Linked DNA regions of Homo sapiens: region 1 is linked to region 2. The links come from fine-mapping of genetic effects on gene expression. A gene starts in region 2. The other region holds a variant in brackets. All regions are shown on one strand. Distances are between the middles of the regions. Region 1 holds the start of SNED1-AS1 (SNED1 antisense RNA 1). Region 2 holds the start of SNED1 (sushi, nidogen and EGF like domains 1).

Region 1 (8,317 bases), 65 kb before region 2:
TTCCACCCACCATGGCTGGCTGGAGCCCCAACTCTGCAGCGGGCAGGGCGGGCTCTGTCTTCACTCCAGATACCTTCCGAGGGCAGATCTCACATGGGGCGGCCTTGCAGGTGCTTCTTCCTAAAACAGCCCAGGCGAGCCACCCCTACTCAGCCCCTGGCAGCTCCTGCTGACACCTGCTCAGTGCCACCCGCACATGCGCCCAGGCTCTCCACTGGCCGAGGTGTGCTCTGTGTCCTTGCTGTGTTGGGAACTCCAGCCCCTTGGTGGTCAACTCCTGCAGGACAGGCCCTTGTGGGCCTCTGGGTGGGCTCAAGCTGCCTTGAATGCCTTCTCCTGTCCCTCAATGCCCTTGGCATTGGCATCAAGCTAGGGCCCAGGTGTGGCCAGGAGGCTTTCCTCCTGTGAGAACCGCCGAGCTCCTCCCCACCTACCCGCCATGCTACCCATAGGTTTCACCAAACTCACGTGGCCGCCCCGCAGGGCCCTGCTGGATGCTTAGGCCTCCCTGAAGCCCTGGCCACCCACCCACCCATCCATCCATCACGCCACTTCGCAGCAGTCTGTGCTCTCAGCACCTTTTCCTCTTTCCTCGAGCCTCTAGCACCCCTTCCCCATTCTTGCTCCTGTGTCTGGAGGCCACAGGCATGTTGGGTGAGAGTCCCATGGCCCCATGGCCCTGCACCCCACTTGGTTCCTGCCCAGCCTGTTCCGAGATCCCCTGTGCTCTAGCTGATGCGGCCGGGCTCCGTGGAAGGCCAGCCCTCTGCTTTCTTCCGGCCCTGCCCCTGTCCGTCCACTGCCATGTTCTAGGGCTCCTTTCTCCTTCCCAGAATCCCTCCCAGCAGCACACAAGCCCGCTAAGCCCTGACGCCTTCCCTAGAGCGCTCAGCATCTTCTGCTCCCCGACACGGCAACAACCCCACAGGCTGTGCACAACCCGGGCCTCCCCTGCAATCTTGGTGGCTCAGGCTCTGAGGAGGCTCCTCCTAGGACCCCCTCTTCAGGGGTCACATCTGGTCACAGCTTTCAGTGCCAGCTCCAGGTGGAGGCTCTGGGTCTGTCATTCCATCTAGGGCCTGCCCCACGGCTCTTCCCGATTGAGCCACCGATGCCTCCCCTTAGCACACCTCAGCGCCTACATATCCCTGTGAGCAGGTGCCTCTTTCAAACTCTCCCCAGGCCTTCAGAGCACCCCAGAGTCCCAGCCCCCCCAAGCCCACCCCCGCGGCCCCTGTCTCCCACACTGGCTCCTTCTAGGGACCCTTTTGGGAAGCCCCCATTCCTCCCCAGTCCCACTTCCTAGCTCCATGCCTGGGGGTTGTGCTGCTCCCACTCTTGGCTCGATTCTATGCGCCCCAATCCCATGCCTGTATCTTGTGGACCCAAGGCCACTCCCACACAGCTCTGTCTCCAGCAGGGCGGTGCCTCCAACCCCCAGCTCAGCTGTCTGTCTTGCTGCTGCAAGAACTAGGAGGGTGGACGGCATGACAGCCGCCCTGCAGGTGCCGGGGCCAGCGCTGCCCTCGAGGGGCAGGGGCTGGGCAGGGACGGCCAGGCTCGGGGACACTCACGCGTGCGGGCCAGCAGCACGGCAGGCCTGCTGATGTCATTCTTGTTGTTACTGTTTCGCTTCACTGAGAAGACGGAGATGTTGTAGGCCCTGCCGGCCGCCAGGGCCTGGAGCTGGTGCGAGGAGCGGGTCCTGTCCACAAAGTCTGTGCGGCGGTAGGAGCCGTCGGAGGAGACGTAGGTGACCGCGTAGCCATCAAGCATCTGCCTGGCGGCTGGACCATTGGGCGGGTTCCAGGAGATAGAGACCCCACTCTCCTCCACTCTCTCCATCTTGAGGGCCGTCGGTGGGAAGAGCTCTTCAGGGTTTGGGTCAAAACAAGGGGAGGGGACTGGTCAGCCGTTAGCTATGCATGCCTGGCTCCCGTCGGCGGCTCAGCCGGGTCTGGCTCTTGGGCCTGACACAGCCATCGCTGGCAGAGTCCTTCTTTGTCCCTGGCCACGTACCTCCAGGAGGGTCACACTTTTGAATGTGTGACCGTGTTTCAAGCCCACCGGGGGATTTTATCCCCTCCCTGTTCCTCAGGGAAGGGGCCTGGGCAAGCAGCGGCCAGACGCTCTGCCCTTGGAGACCGTTGGGCCCTCTAGGGAGAGGGGACCCCCTCGTGGCTCCCTCACTGGAGGCGCCCTCGCCACCCACCTTTGGCGCAGTCCTCGCCCGTGTAGCCCACTTTGCAGGTGCAGCTGTGGGAGCCGTTGCTGGCCAGGCAATAGCCACGGCCCCCACAGGGGCTGGAGAAGCAGGGGTCACTCACTGAGGGGAGAAAAAGTGGCAGTGTATGTTGGGGCGTGGCCAGGGGTCCCTGCTCCAGCCCCGCCCTTGCTCCTGGGGCACTGGGTCCCTCCTGCGTGGGTGTGGAGGGGCGGGGGGCACAGGACAGCTACTGCCTCCCTTCGGTTCTGCCACCTCCACTGCCCTGCGGGGCCCAACCCAGCAGCTCCTCCACCCTCCACAGCGGAGTGCCACCAGCCGGACTGGCTGAGGGGAGGAGACACTGGATCAGGACAGGACAGGCCACCACCCCAGTGACAGTCCTGCTTGAGGAGGGGAGGTCAGTGGTCAGGGAAGCCTCATCAGGAGGTATCCCACTGGGGGCTGATTAGGGAGAATGTTCCAGATGGAAGGACAGCCAGGGGCCAGACCTGGGTGTGCAAGAAACTTGGCCTGTCCAAGGGCAGCAGGGCCTATGTGTGGACGTGAGGCCCCACCCCTGGGTGTGTCCTCGGGTGAAGAGGGGTGTCTGGGGGGTGAGCGCAGGAGATGGGGAGGTTTAGAAGGCACCATTGTGGGACCAAGGGAGACAGGCGGAGGGCCACTGGCCTGAGAAGGGGACTTCCAAGGCGGCGGGCAGAGGGCGGGGAGCAGGCGGGCAGAGGGCGGGGAGCAGGCGGGCAGAGGGCGGGCAGCAGGCGGGCAGAGGGCGGGGAGCAGGCGGGCAGAGGGCGGGGAGCAGGCAGGCCTGCCGCCCTACCTGTCTCGCAGTGGTAGCCGAAGAAGCTCTCTGGGCAGACGCACAGGTAGGCCCCGCCGCCGCTCTCACACCGGCCTCCATGCTGGCAGGGGCTGGAGTCGCAGGCGTCCACCTCTGGAGAACACCCAGAGAGTGGGCCCAAGCTGCAAGGGGGGAGTCTGGGGGAGGGAGGAGAGGACAGCGGGAAGAAGGGAAAGGAGGAGTCTAGGGGCGGAGGCCAGGAGAGAGGGGCAGTGGGCAGGTCCCGCCCCTCAGCCCTCCCCAGCACCCTCACCTCCACCCCTCCCTCCCAAGGTGGCCGCAGCCCTGGGGGTCCCTCTCCCCAGGTGGCCTGCCCAGCAGGGAATGTGGGGATGCCCCACCTCCTCTCTGATCTTCCAGAGGCCCAGGCTCTGCATGTGGGGCCCACTGGAGGGAGCCCCTACCTGTCTCACAGTGGACTCCAACGAAGCCTGCAGGGCACCGGCAGACATAGGCCCCTGGGAGGTTCCTGCAGGACCCTCCATTTCTGCACGGGTGAGCTCGGCACTCATCCCTCTCTGCACAGAGAAGGGGTGTCAAGGGTGTTGCTGGCTCAAGTCTGAGGCGCCCACATGCCCCCAGGATTCCGTGCATTTCCTGGGGCTTCAGTTACCCCTTTCCCAGCTGGGAGCAACTACTCAGGACATGTGCTTTTTCTTCCATCAGCCCCAAACCCACCCCTCCTCGGGAGGCGTGCCACCTCCACTGCCTGCTGGCAAAGCCCCACCTCCAGGCCATGCCTTCCTCCAGGCCACTCCGCAATGGGAGGCTCCCCAGGGCCACGACTGGGCACGGCTCCCTGGGCCTTGCCCTCCCTGGAGCCTGCGTTTCTCAGGCTTAGAGCCCTAGCGAGGTACAAGAGTGTGCAGGGCTCATGGGGCAGGCCTCCCCTCCCTCCACTGGCTGGAAGCACC[G/C]ACCAGGTGTCAGAGACTGTGACCTGCCCTCTCCGACGCCCACCTTCTCTGCGCCCTGAAGCCAGGCCAGCATTTCTCAGCTGGGCTCTCAGTCTCCCCTGGGGAGGTGCAGGAAGGGATATTTGTAAAATCTTTGTCTTGGATGTCAGAGCTGGCAGGGGCCCGAGAAAGCATGCAGTGGCCACCCTGGCCATCCAGACAGAGACCTGTCCGGGGGACCCAGTGCCTCAGGCACATGGCCAGTGTGCTGCAGCTGTCACCCCAGCGGGGCCAGGGCCCCTCTTACCCAGCTCACAGTGGGCGCCCTCATAGCCTGTGCTGCAGAGGCACAGGTACCCAGCAACGCGGTCCTGACAAGAGCCCCCATGCAGGCACGGCTGAGACCGGCACTCATCGATTTCTGAGAGGAGAGAGCCCAAGAATAAAGCAATGTGGCCACGATTAAGCCAAATTAAGATGCACATAAACTAGTCCTGAGGGGCCAGACAGAATTCGATGATACATCATCAGTGGTTGGAAAGGCCAGAGACCAGGGCTGGATATCCTTGGAGTCGGGGCAGGGCAGTGGGCCTGGGGCTCAGTGCCTGGCTGTGTCTGTGAAGCAGCAGGGCGGGCTTGAAACCACCCCAGGGCTCCCAGAAGACGCTGTGGGACTTAATTCCAGTGGTTCAGGCCGACAGGACAAAGGCCTCAGGGGTTTGACAGAAAATGTCTCATGTCCCATCTTGCCATTTCAATGTATAATAGTCACCTGTGAAACCAGTCCATCTGGGACAAATCTTGGTTTTAAATGATTCACCACAGCTTTCTTTTCAAGCGGGAGTTGTGCTCCTGAATTTAAATATTTATTTTTTTAAAGTTTAATTTCATGCTTAAAAAGTAAATAAATGGTAATGACTTAGTGACATCTGGGACTAGCAGCCACCCCGGCAGCCAGAATGCTGAATGGGCTCATCCGACCGTGTACCCTTCTCTTCCCTTGCGATAAGAATCTCTGGGTTTATAATTTCCTTGTCTTTAAAAACTAGGTTTTCTGGCAGTAAAATATGTAATTAAAATTAGCTTAAAAATTTTATAAATTGCCTAAACAATAGTGAATGTTTTTGTTGTTTATGAACTTTATTCATAGTACATCATGATATATATTGTCTTCTCTCAGCATTATATGAAGAAGAGAACTCCACACTGTAGGTCACTGTGGTTCATAGATTTTCACTGCTGAATAACATTACACAGTGTGGTTATATCATACTTCACCCATTCTCACTGGCTGGGTCTTTGGGTTGGTTCTAGACTTTTTCCTTTTTTTGTTTTCTTTTTTTCTTTTTTTTTTTTTGGGGGGATGGAGTTTCGCTCGTTGCCCAGGCTGGAGTGCAGTGGCATGATCTTGGCTCACCACAACCTCCGCCTCCCGAGTAGCTGGGACTAAAGGCGCCCACCACCATGCCCGACTAATTTTTGTATTTTTAGTAGAGATGGGGTTTCACTATGTTGGCCAGGCTGGTCTCGAACTCCTGACTTCGTGATCCGCCTGCCTCAGCCTCCCAAAGTGCTGGGATTACAGGCATGAGTCTACGCCCAGCCTAGACTTTTTGCTTTTACAAAAAATGTTGCTGTGTATATTCTTTCCCATCTCCTGGTGCAGACGTGAAGTTTTTCTTAGGTTTATACCCAGAAGTGCAATTGCTGGAACACAGTTGACGTAAATGAGCAACAGTGGGCAGATTGCTCAACAGGCAGAGTGCCACATTGTTTTCAAAGTGCTTCTAGCAATTTATACTCTTGCCAGCAATGCATAAGAAATCTTGTTGATCCACATTCTCACCGGTATAGGCTTTTCAGACTTCTGAAAATTTACCAGCTGAATGTACCTCATTGCACTTTTGATTTGCATTTCCCTGATTACTAATGAAATAGAATATTTCTTTTTATGTTTGTTGGCCTTTTGTATCTCTTCTTCCATGAAATGCCTATGCATGTTTTTTTTTCTATTTTCCTATTAGGTTGTTTTCTCATTGATTTATCAGAGTTCTTCATGTAGTCTTGAGACTATTTATCTCTTCTCCCAGTTTGTAGTTTAGATTTCACTTTCTTAAGGTTTATGGATTTAGGTTCTAATTTTCATATGGTCAAGTATGTTCATCATTTCTTTTTAAATTCTTTTTGTGGCTTAAGGAGTCTTTCACTACCCCAAAGTCAAAAATATATTTACCTATATTTTCCACACAAAATTATATAGTTTTTTTTGGTTGTTTTTTTTTGAGACAGGGTCTCACCCTGTCCCCCAAGCTGGAATGCAGCGGTGCAATCACAGTTCACTGCAGCTTTGAACTCCGGTTTCAAGTGATCTTCCCACCCTAGCCTCCTGAGTAGCTGGGACTACAGGTGCATGCCACTACGCCTGGTTAATTTTAGTTTATTTTTGTAGAGTTGGGGGTCTCTCTATGCTGCACAGGCTGGGCTCAAACAAAACTCCTGTCTTGGCCTCCCAAAGTGCTGGGATTATAGGCATGAGCCATGTGCCCGGCCCTGTATAGTTTTTTTTTAAAGAAACATTTAGGTCTTTAATCCACCTGGATTTAATTCCAGTGTATGAAAAATAGAGAACCAATATAATATTTTTCCAAGTACAAAACCATTGTATTCCAGCTCTCATGAATATTTTCTCATATGCTTTTGTATTTCTTTCTTTTAGAAGTTTATAGTTAGGGACGGGCATGGTGGCTCGCGCCTGTAATCCAGCACTTTGGGAGCCCAAGGCGGGTGGATCACCAGAGGTCAGGAGTTCAAGACCAGCCTGGCCAACATGGTGAAACCCCGTCTCTATTAGGAATACAAAAATTAGCTGGGTATGGTGGTGAGTGCCTGTAATCCCAGCTACTTGGGAGACTGAGGCAGGAGAATCGCTTGAACCAGGGAGGCGGAGGTTGCAGTGAGCCGAGATTGTGCCACTGCACTCCAGCCTGGGCAAGAGTGAGATTCTGTCTCAAAAAAAAAAAAAAAGTTTATAGTTTTAGCTTTTACATTTATGTTTATAGTTCCTTTTACGCATTTAAAAATTTATCATGTTTTTGATGCTATTAATGTAACACTTTCATTTCAAAGTGTTCACTGCTACAACAGGTTCTATATACTGACCCTGTATCCTGGGATCTAGTTGAATTCACTTGTTAGTTCTATAGCTTCTTTTGTAGAATTTCCTTAGGATTTTCTATGCATACAATCATGTGATCTCTAATTCTTTCTTCCTTTCCTTCCTTTTATTTCCTTTTCTTGTCATCTGGCACTGTCTAGGGCCTCCAGGAAAATGCTGGGAATACGTACTGAATGGACACCTTGCCTTGTACGGATTCCAGGTGGAGTCTTTCACCACTGAGTACACTGGTAGCTGAGGTTTTTAATGGATGTCCTTTATCAGGTTGAGGAAATTATCTTCTACTCTTAGTTGACTAAGAATTTTAAATACCAGTTGAATTTGTCAAATAATTTCCTGCATCTATTGAGATATATAGTTTTCTCTTTCATCTCCTAATATGATGAAGTACATTGATTGACATTAAAAGTTAGACCAACCTGTGTCCTTGAGAAAAATCCCACTTGGTCATGACTGTATCATTCTTTTATATAGTACTGAGCTTGACTTAGTAATATTTTGTTTGGATTGTTGTGTCTATGTTCTTGAGAGATACCAGTCTGTAACTTCAAATTTTGTAGTGTCTGTGTCTGGTTTTGGTATCAAGGTGAGTTGAGAAGTTATCAAATAAGTTGGGTATCAATTGAGTTTGGTATCAAATGAGAAGTGTTCTTCCCTCCTAGATTTTCTAAAAAATATGTAGCTCTTTCTAAAAGAGGTTGTACAAAGTTGGTATCATTCCTTTCTTAAACATTTGGTAGAATTCATCCGTGAAGCAATCTGACACAGCTGTTCTGAGGAAGGTTTTTAATTACAAATTAAGTGTAACAGATATAAGGCTGTATATGTTTTCTATTATTCTTGTGTCAGTTCTGGTAATTTGTCTTTCAGGGTATCCATTTCCCCTAAGTTGTCAGATACATTGGCCTAAAATTGCTCATAGGTGTTCTCTTGTCCTTTAAGTACTGGCAGGATCTTTAATGTTTAAAGGACTCCACTGTAAACACGAGGTAGGATCTCCTTTTCTATTTTGATCTTGCTAATTTCTCTCTTTTTTTCCTGATCAGTCTAGCTAGGGTTTATCAATGTTAATGATTTTTTTTTTTTTGAAACAGAGTCTTGCTGTGTCACCCAGGCTGGAGTGCAGTGGTGCGATCTTGGCTCACTGCAAGCTCCGCCTCCCAGGTTCACACCATTCTCCTGCC
Region 2 (8,317 bases):
GGCAGATCACAGCTGTCCTGGGCTCATGGCCTTGACCTGGAGTCATCAGGCTCTCTCACTCCAGCATCCTCCTCGACTCCAGCCCCATTCCACTTCCCCAGGATCCCCTTCCATCTGCTTCCGTCACACCCAGGCAGCAGCAAGAAGGGCATGCTGATGAGGGGCAGGACCACCTTGGCCAAGCCCATAGCAGGGGGTGGGCCAGCCCGGGAACCTCAGTGAATAGGGCAGCCAAGGGGAAGCCCAGGACCCTCCTCCCAGCCAAGGGGCTCCTGCATTTGCTGGGGTGTTCCATGAGCTCAGAAGAGAGCAGAGATGGCAGTGATTTCTCCCCACATGTCTGCTCCCAGATCCACTCATGCGCAGGCCTCGGTCCCACTGAGACAGTCCCTGTGGGTCAGGGTGGATTTTCCAGATGGCTTGGAGCTGGCGACCACACAACCGTGACAGTGATGGGGTGTGTCACAGGTATGACCTGATGGGGGAGCTTCACCACACAGATGGGGAGACAGAGGCTCAGGGAGGAAATGACCAGGCAAAGGTCACAGGCTGCATGTGAACTCCCACACCAGAGCAGCTGCCCTGGGCTCCGTGTTCTGGGAGGGGTAGGGCCGGGACTGTGCCTGGATGGTAATGTTGTGCAGAGCCAGAGCCAGCAGACTTGCGGTGTGGCACGAAGCCTCAGGGCACAGAGTGGGGGTTTAGCCAGCACCAGCGAGGGTCAGTCTGACTGTCCACATTCCTCCTTCTTGCCTGCGGGCTCTGCAGGGCACCACCCACTCTTGACCCTCAAATCCTCCCTGCCTCTGCTCAGGGCTCTGTCGGGGGTCCTGATGCCAAAGAAACTGAGATCCTCCCATGGCCCAGAGACCATGCTGTGGATGGGGGCAGTGCTTGGAGCCAGGAGCTTCAGTGTAGGGGGCACCAGGAAGATTTCGTCTCTCATTCCCTGCACCTGCCCCTAGGAAACCACTCCACCTGCATAAGCCCCACAGACCGCGGCAAGCTCCGTCTTAATGCAGACACTGGCAGTTCCTGCATGGCAGGATAGCGGCAGCATGCCACACTCCTCAGCACGCCACACTCCTCGGCGCGCCACGCTCCTCGGCTGCATTATCTTTGTCTGTGTGTAGAACCTTAGCAATAAAATGCACTTTCAACACTTTTCAGAGCCTTACGACTTACCACACACATACAGCTACTATGACATGAGAAAGAAGCAAAACAATGGGTCCCTTCTGGAAAGGGGGCCACTCCATGTGTGGCAGAGCTGTCTTGCTAGGGCAGTAATCCATGTGCTATTTCTGATGAAGACAGAAGAAGCACCCATCTCATGCAAGAGCACTTCTAATTTCTACCTGTGACTTGCAGGCAGTGTCAGAGGGAGGCACATTCATTCATTCAGACAACAAGCCTACTCTTGGTCAAGCGACAGGCTGGGGGCGGAGGAGCGCAGAGGTCACTGCAGTGGGATGGGGGCTGGAGGGTCCTGGCTGGGCCTGACATGGGAGTCTGAGTCCAGGGCCAGCAGACACGAGGCCCCTATAGACTGGAGCTGGACAAGGGCCAGAGCCAGGGGCCTCAGAAGAGGGTCCGCTCGGCCTGGGTGGGCGTGGGAGGCCCCAGGCAGGTCCACTTCCTTCAGAACAAATGCCTCCCTTCTTTCCACCTGGCTTCAGCCCTAACCTGCTGCCAAGCACCCCTTTCTCTCTCCCTGCTTGACCACAGAGTCCGCACAGTTACTTCAGGCAAGGTGTCCTGGGCAACGCAGCCTCAAGCCTCCTGCTGAGCAAACAGAAAGGTGAAGTGCACTGCAGGCACTGTGTCCACATCGGCAAATGGTTTTCAAATAATATCTTTGTTTCAGGAAAAAGCTCCGATGGAGATAAATGTTTTGTTAGCAGCCAGAAGGTTCATTTCTGACGAAACCCTAGTTCTCCTAGCAGATCTTCCCACGTTAGAGCTGTTTCCCCTAGTTGCTCTGGCAAGGGCAGATGTTTTTGGTGAGGCTGTTAAGTGGGTTAACCATTTTAATAATATTTTCACCTGTGACTGTGAGTGGGAAAGCTGAGCCTGGCCCAAATGCTTAAGGAGCCTCTTGAGTTCTGTTCGGATGGTGCCAATGTGAGTGTCCCATACCTCAAGTGGACAGGCCTCCTCCAGCTCGGGCCAACGCTGAGCACCATTCTGTCCTACCCACTTCGTACTTCCAGGAGTCAGTCCCGTTCCTCTGTCCAAGTCCCGGTCCAGAGGGACTTTCAGGGGGTAGCACCGACAGCATGGCTGCCCCTCCCACCAGTCAGGTCACCCAGTGCTGCCACCGAGGTGGGGAGGCCTTCCTGAGCAGGTGTGGAAAACGCAGTGGGCGCTGTGGATGGTGTTGGCAGTTGTGGGGTGGGAGGCGCACTAGAGGGCATGTGGTGGAGGAGGCCCTGTGGATGGAGGTGGGGAGGGATGATGACAACCATGCAGAGGATGTGGATGGTGACGACGGGAAGCTGGGGACCATGGGGAAGGTGGTGGTGGAGGCAGTGCTGCTGGTGGTGGGGTTGAAGGAGGTGGTGTTGACGGAGGAGTTGGCAGTACAGGTGGTGTTACTCCGGGCAGCACAGATGGCAGAGGCGATGTGGCTGGCAGTGGGTTGAGGCTGGAGGTGGGCGAGGGTATGAGAGGGCTGATGGTGGAGGTGGCCGTGGTGACGGAGCTGGAGGGGACTCTACTTGAGGCTGGCCCAGCAGTTTTCTAGATATGATCTGGGGTGTTTCAGGGAACCACCAGGTACCAGTGCACCGTGGCCTACTCAGGGCGAGTGCTCCATGCAGTTACCAGGTGCATTTCATTCCCTGGGCTGCCATAAGGGCTTGGCCTGGGGTCACACTCTGGGAGCCATGGAGACAGAACCGGCACTCGGGCCTGTTCCTTCAGCTGAGCTGAGCCTGCTGTCATGAGTCCCTGGCCCCAGGAGTCCCACTGGGAGTCCTGTTTGGAGAGTCTGAGCCTGAGCGGCCAGCCCCCAGACTGCGGAGAGGACGGCAGGGAGGGGCAAGCCTGTTGCTAGCCCGCCTAGGAGGGTCAGCGAAGAAGCAGGCCCTGCCCTGAGCGCCTGGGCAAGGGGTCCAGCCTCCTGGCTCTGGGCCGCACTGGCGTCCACGGGGGGCGGGGCTGAAATGGCCCAAGGAGGGGCTGCAACCTTCGCAGGCCCGGCGCCCCACTTGGGAAACTGAGGCCCGGGAAGCCCGTGCCCACGGCCACATTGCCATGTGTGAAAACCAGGGCAGTACCAGGACCCCTGCTCTCCCCTGGGAATCAGGCGCCGGGAAGACGCGCTCGGCAGGTCTGGCAGGGGCCGGGGCGCCGCGCTCCACTCGCCCCCGCCTCGGTGCCCGGCGGCTGCCGCCCCCGCCCCGCCCGCGCGCCTCTCCCGCGGGCCGCTGTCCGGCCTTGGCCGCCGAGGAGGAAGCGCTGTCCTCATTCCACCTCGGGCCGCCCCGGTGCCAAGTGGCTGGCGGCGGCGGCGGGAGTCCGGGCCCGGCGGGCAGCGGCCGGGGCGCAGCTCCCTCCCCTCCCGGGCGCCCCGCGAGCCCGGGGGTTACTCACGTAGAGTCCGGAGTGCTCGGCACCGAAGAACGGGAAGGGCACCGAGAGCGGCCGCAGCCCCGAGCCGCCGTCGTCCTGCTTGGGGGTGACGGCGTCGCCGCGCTCGGCGCCGAACGGGTAGAAGTCGGCAAGGGCCACCGCGCCGCGCACCCCGCGCGCCCCAAGCCCCAGGGCCGCGGCCACCAGCAGCGCCCAGGCGACGCCGTGCCGCATCGCGGAGGTGTGCGGGCGGGACGGGGCGCTGGCGGAGCAGGGCGCTGGGGGACTAGGCTGCGCGCGGGGGTGGCCGGCAGGGCCAGGCGGGGTGCGGGGAGCGCGGGCGCGCCCGCTGGCCGCGCCGTCGGGGGCTCCGCGTCCCGCGCCCGTTCGGCCGGGCCGCGCTCTCGCCGCAGCTCCGCAGAGGAAAGCGCCGGGCGGGACCGCGTTCGGGGCCAGCCCCGCCCCTGGGGCCACGATTTAAATATCCAGCCCGGCGGTCACTCGGGGGGGCGGGGCCATGCAAATCGGGCGTCTCTTAAAGCGCCAGGCCCCGTGGGAGGGCGCGGGCGCGCGGGGAGCTCAGTCCCCTGGCGTGGGCACAGGCAAGGTGAGGGCTCTGCGGGCGCGCGCCCTGTGGTGGGGCCATGCTCCGCCCTGGGTCCCTACCCTGGTGGAGGCGCCTGGGCCCTCAGTGCCGTCCTGGGACAGACCTGTGTCCCTAAGGCCTGAGACGCTGGGCCCGCCCTGAAGGCGTGTCATCACGCGGGGGGCGGGAGGGGACCCTGGCCAGGCAGTGCCTGAATGAACCCGTTCCGTGCTGCCCCCTTCCCAGCCCTGAGCATGGGGACGCCAGGCTTCCAGCCACAGGGGCAGACTAACCCCGGAGCCCACTCCCTGCCTGGGTCTGTGTGAGGAAGAGCCCGGGCCGGAGACTAGGAGGCATGGAACAAAGTGTTTGCATCTGCGTGGCCGCATCAGGAGAAATTCCTGGGAGGCTCGGGACCTCGGGGCGACCCCTGGGTAAAGCAAACCCTCCGTGGGGAAGACTGACCCACTCAGGCCCTGGGGGCAAGTGCGTGCATGACACCGGCCTTGGCAGGTGGGGGCAGGACTCTGAGTCCCAGTATTTGAATTCAGGGTCCCCACCCTGTGGCCTGCCAGCCCTGCCCCCTGTCTCTTGGGCTGCTGGCCTGGGCTGCCTGTCTGTCCTTCCTCAGGGCCTCAGCCGGGACCACCTCTATGTCCCCAGGCCCATGGCAGGGTCTGATTCCTGGAACTCACCCGGCCCACCGTGGTCTCTTCTCTTAGATCCTGGTGTTGGGTGGTGTTGGCTGCGTGCCACACTGGGGCCCCCAAAGATAAGAGTGCACCCCTCGAAGACAAGCAGGAAAGGCCGGGCTGATGGTAACTGCATCTACCACTGAGGTGCTGGGTGGTTTTTTGTTTGTCTTTGCGTTTGTATCTTCTGAAATATCTCAAGTGAGCACGTGTTGTTTTTCAGTGAGAGCCAGGCACAGTCAATGTTATTTTTAAGAAGCAGCGGAGGGTTCTCTGCGTGTGACTGGGTGTTGCCGGTTCTCACAGATCCTGCACTTGGTGTTTTCACTCAGAGGTTCATGACCCTTTAGACTTGGTGTCAGGGCCGGGTGCAGAATTGTTAAGGAGGAGCTGACCCTGCACTGGCACCTCCTGAAAGCTTGCCCCTGGCGCCTCTCCCACCCTGCATGGGGTGGCAATTCTGTTTGCAGAGAGGCAAACTGGGCCTGGGAGGGGAAGGGCTCTGTCCCGCAGTTAGCCCTTAGGTCACCGTCCCAGCTTTCAGAGCTCCAGGACAGCAGCACAGCCATGGTTCCAGGGCCAGAAAGGTCAAGGCCTCCTGTCTTTGGAGGGAGGCACCAGAGAGGGCGTGGAACTGTAGAATCCCTACTTGAGGCCGGCTCTCGGTGAGAGCCTGGCAAGGAGAGACATGTCTCCACGCACATGCACACACGTCCACGCACACATGCATACTTATTCACATGCACGGAGGCAGCATATGCCCATACGTGGGGCCTCAAGAACATGCTTTAACCCCTTCCTCAGCCCAGCCCTGGCCTCCCTGGTCAGGGAGGGCTGCTCCCACCTCTGGCTGGCACAGGCCGTGGAGTCAGGACAAGGCCCCATGTAGCAGCGTTGGGAACAGAGCTGCCAGGCGTCACCGTGGCGGGAATCAGGGAGAACGCTTTTCTATTTGTCTTTTTTCTAGAAAAACCTGGCAGCCCTCTACCCTCTTTTCAGTGCATTTGGGGCCTGGCTGGAAGGCCCCTCCGGTGAGTTTGCGAAGGTGGGAGGCGGCAGTGCCAACCCCAGGGCAGGATTTCTCCGCTGAAGAGGTGTTGTCATGGGGACGTGAGGCTTTGACCCCCACTAGGGCTGGCCCACCTCCTGCCCTGTCCCTACTACCCATCCACTTCCCACCACATGCTCCTGCTCTGCTCTCAGAGCCCAGCCTGGGGTGCTGCCTCCCAGCCAGCTGCCCAGGCCAGGCGCCCTTCTCCCCACTGCTGACCTTCTCTTGAGCACACAAGACAGGGACCTGGGTAACAACCCATTTCTGGGCTGGGTTTGGGTCAACTTGGGGGCAGGGCCGCCCAGGGCACCTTGGGGCACACAGTGGCACTCAGTGGCTGCACCGAGTGGAGGCCTGTTTCTTCAGGCGGGTGGGCTGGTGGGCCTCACGGGGGTCGCTGAGCAGTGCTGGAAACGCTCAGGCCCGTCCTCGTCCCAGAGAGTCAGAGCTCATGGGCCTGGGGCGTGGCTGGCAGTGGGCCAGACCCTGCTCATGGCCCAGAGAGGCCACACTTCCTCGGGCCTGTACCCTGCTGACCAGCCTCGGCCTGCACCCTGTGCAGATTTTCAGCCGGGCCCGGGGAGCTGGGGGTTAACAAAAGGCCCCGCTGCTGCTGGGCATTACATTTCATTAAAAAAAAAAAAAACAAAAAAAAAACAACACAACTCTGCAGGCAAAAAAGAGAAAAAAAAATGTTTTTCTCAGGTGCTAAAAATATTATCAGGAAATACTTTTCAGCAATGTGCTGTTTTAGGCTCCCCTCTGGACTCAAGGGCGCCTTTGTCTCTGCCACAGAAAATCCACATTTATCAAAACCAAAATTGTTTTATCAAGCAGGCTCATGTTCTGTGGCCAGGAAACCCGAGCCTCCCCAACCGGCCTGTGACATTTTAATTTAGGGCCTGAGCGTGTGTGCAATTTAGATGGGGTGCCCCGGGAGCTGCCCTCAGGATGCCCCAGGACTCGGGGCTCCACGCAGGCCAAGGTGGGGGTGCCCTCCCCAACCTGCACCTGGTTGGCTGGGCCTGTTTGGTCTTCACAGGGTGGAAGATCCTGGGGGTTCAGGCCTGAGCTGCCAGGGGCAGGGGCTGGCTGGCTGTAGCCCACCCTAACTTTCTCTCCTTCTCTCCCAGAAGTGGCAGGTGGAGTGCAGGTCCCCTGCCCCAGAAGCGCTGATCCCAAGTAAACCTCCACATGCTCCGGAATGAGGCCAGGAGGTCACAGGGACCAAGGGCCGCTCCACCTGCTCACCTGGTCACTGTCCTGTGTGGCTGGTTGGGGTCTTGGTGCAGTTGGCCCTGAGGGAGTGTGGGGGCCATGCAGCCTGCCCTGTACCTCCTCTTCTCATGCACACGGAGCCGCACACACATTGACTCCCATGACGGGACTTCTGTGGTTGCTCTTAGGGAAACGATGGGACTGGGGTTCAACACTTCCTTCCCAGGATGTTCACTGCTGCGTGGGCTCAGGCATCGGCTCTCCCTGTCCTGGGGATGACGAGACCCTGCCTCCCGTTGAGAGCCTTGTCCATCTCCTGAGTGCCCAAGACAGGACAGAGCCCCATTCTCTGTGGGCTCCAGGATGGCAGGGACAGCCAGCAGTGGAGGGACACTCAGGCCCAGGGTCCTCCGATGCCCCGGAGCTTCCGCAGCAAAAAAACCATGCTCTGAGACGTTTTTAGTGATTCGGGAAAACTCTAACGGTATTGTGTCAAGCAAAAGTTTTAAAAAATAGTACTCTGAGTAGCATCCACGCTATGGCCTCAACCGTCCTAAGCACACGTGTGCTAGAAAAAGGGAGAGTTGGGTGTCACCTCGGGGCTCTGCAGGTCACAGATTATGGTGGTGGTTACATTCTCCTTTCTATGTTTCCCTGCTAACATTTTTTGCAATTAATTTGAAAAGTATGAATGTTTTGGAAGCCCAGATAAACAATGCCCTTGGTTCCAGCTGGCCGGCTTCCTGCCCCGGCTTCAGCCAACCAAAGCTTGTGCTTCCCTCAACCTGGGGTGCTTCAGAGGGCTGGCCTGTCCTTGGGTGCCGCCGTCTGCGTTCAACATGGCCCCTCCTCCAGTGCCCCCTCCCCAGGGGGCCTTCCTCTCCCATTTGTCCCCTCCCTGTGTTGGTCTGCAACCCCTGGATGCCTGCAAAGGGTGCTGCCCCCGGACCCAGGCACCTGAGGGCCTGTCAGAGCGTCGGAGCTTCCTGGCCAGAGGCTGGATGGGACCCTCCAACAGCCCCTGCGTGCCCCACATTCCTCGGCGAGCCTCAAGGGTGGCAGGAATCCGAAGGGATTTTGTGTTCTGTCTCAGACAGGAGCTGGGCCCCTGCCTGCATCCCTGCCTTGTGTGGGGGAGGGTCTCCTGGCTTTCGGAAACCTCAGGCACATTTATCACCTCTGCCCACCGGAGAG

What was found. PIP is the estimated chance that this variant, and not a neighbour inherited with it, causes the effect.
Region 1: its variant is fine-mapped to the expression of SNED1 in tibial nerve (GTEx, PIP above 0.99). The same link has a PIP of 0.9 or more in breast and nucleus accumbens.

What each region holds. Positions count from the first base shown.
Region 1 is chr2:241,058,853-241,067,169 of GRCh38, reverse strand. It overlaps SNED1 (sushi, nidogen and EGF like domains 1), which reads right to left. Exons shown (of 32, transcript NM_001080437.3): 17 at 4,266-4,379; 18 at 3,470-3,583; 19 at 3,045-3,158; 20 at 2,213-2,326; 21 at 1,575-1,871. It overlaps SNED1-AS1 (SNED1 antisense RNA 1), which reads left to right and starts at 3,052. Exons shown (of 3, transcript NR_187212.1): 1 at 3,052-3,090. It also overlaps a transcript of MTERF4 not described here. RefSeq lists a silencer at 2,944-3,103. The variant G/C (reference allele first, on the strand shown) is at 3,980.
Region 2 is chr2:240,994,331-241,002,647 of GRCh38, reverse strand. SNED1 (sushi, nidogen and EGF like domains 1) reads right to left here and starts at 4,030. Exons shown (of 32, transcript NM_001080437.3): 1 at 3,598-4,030. The coding sequence starts at 3,810. RefSeq lists a silencer at 3,979-4,398.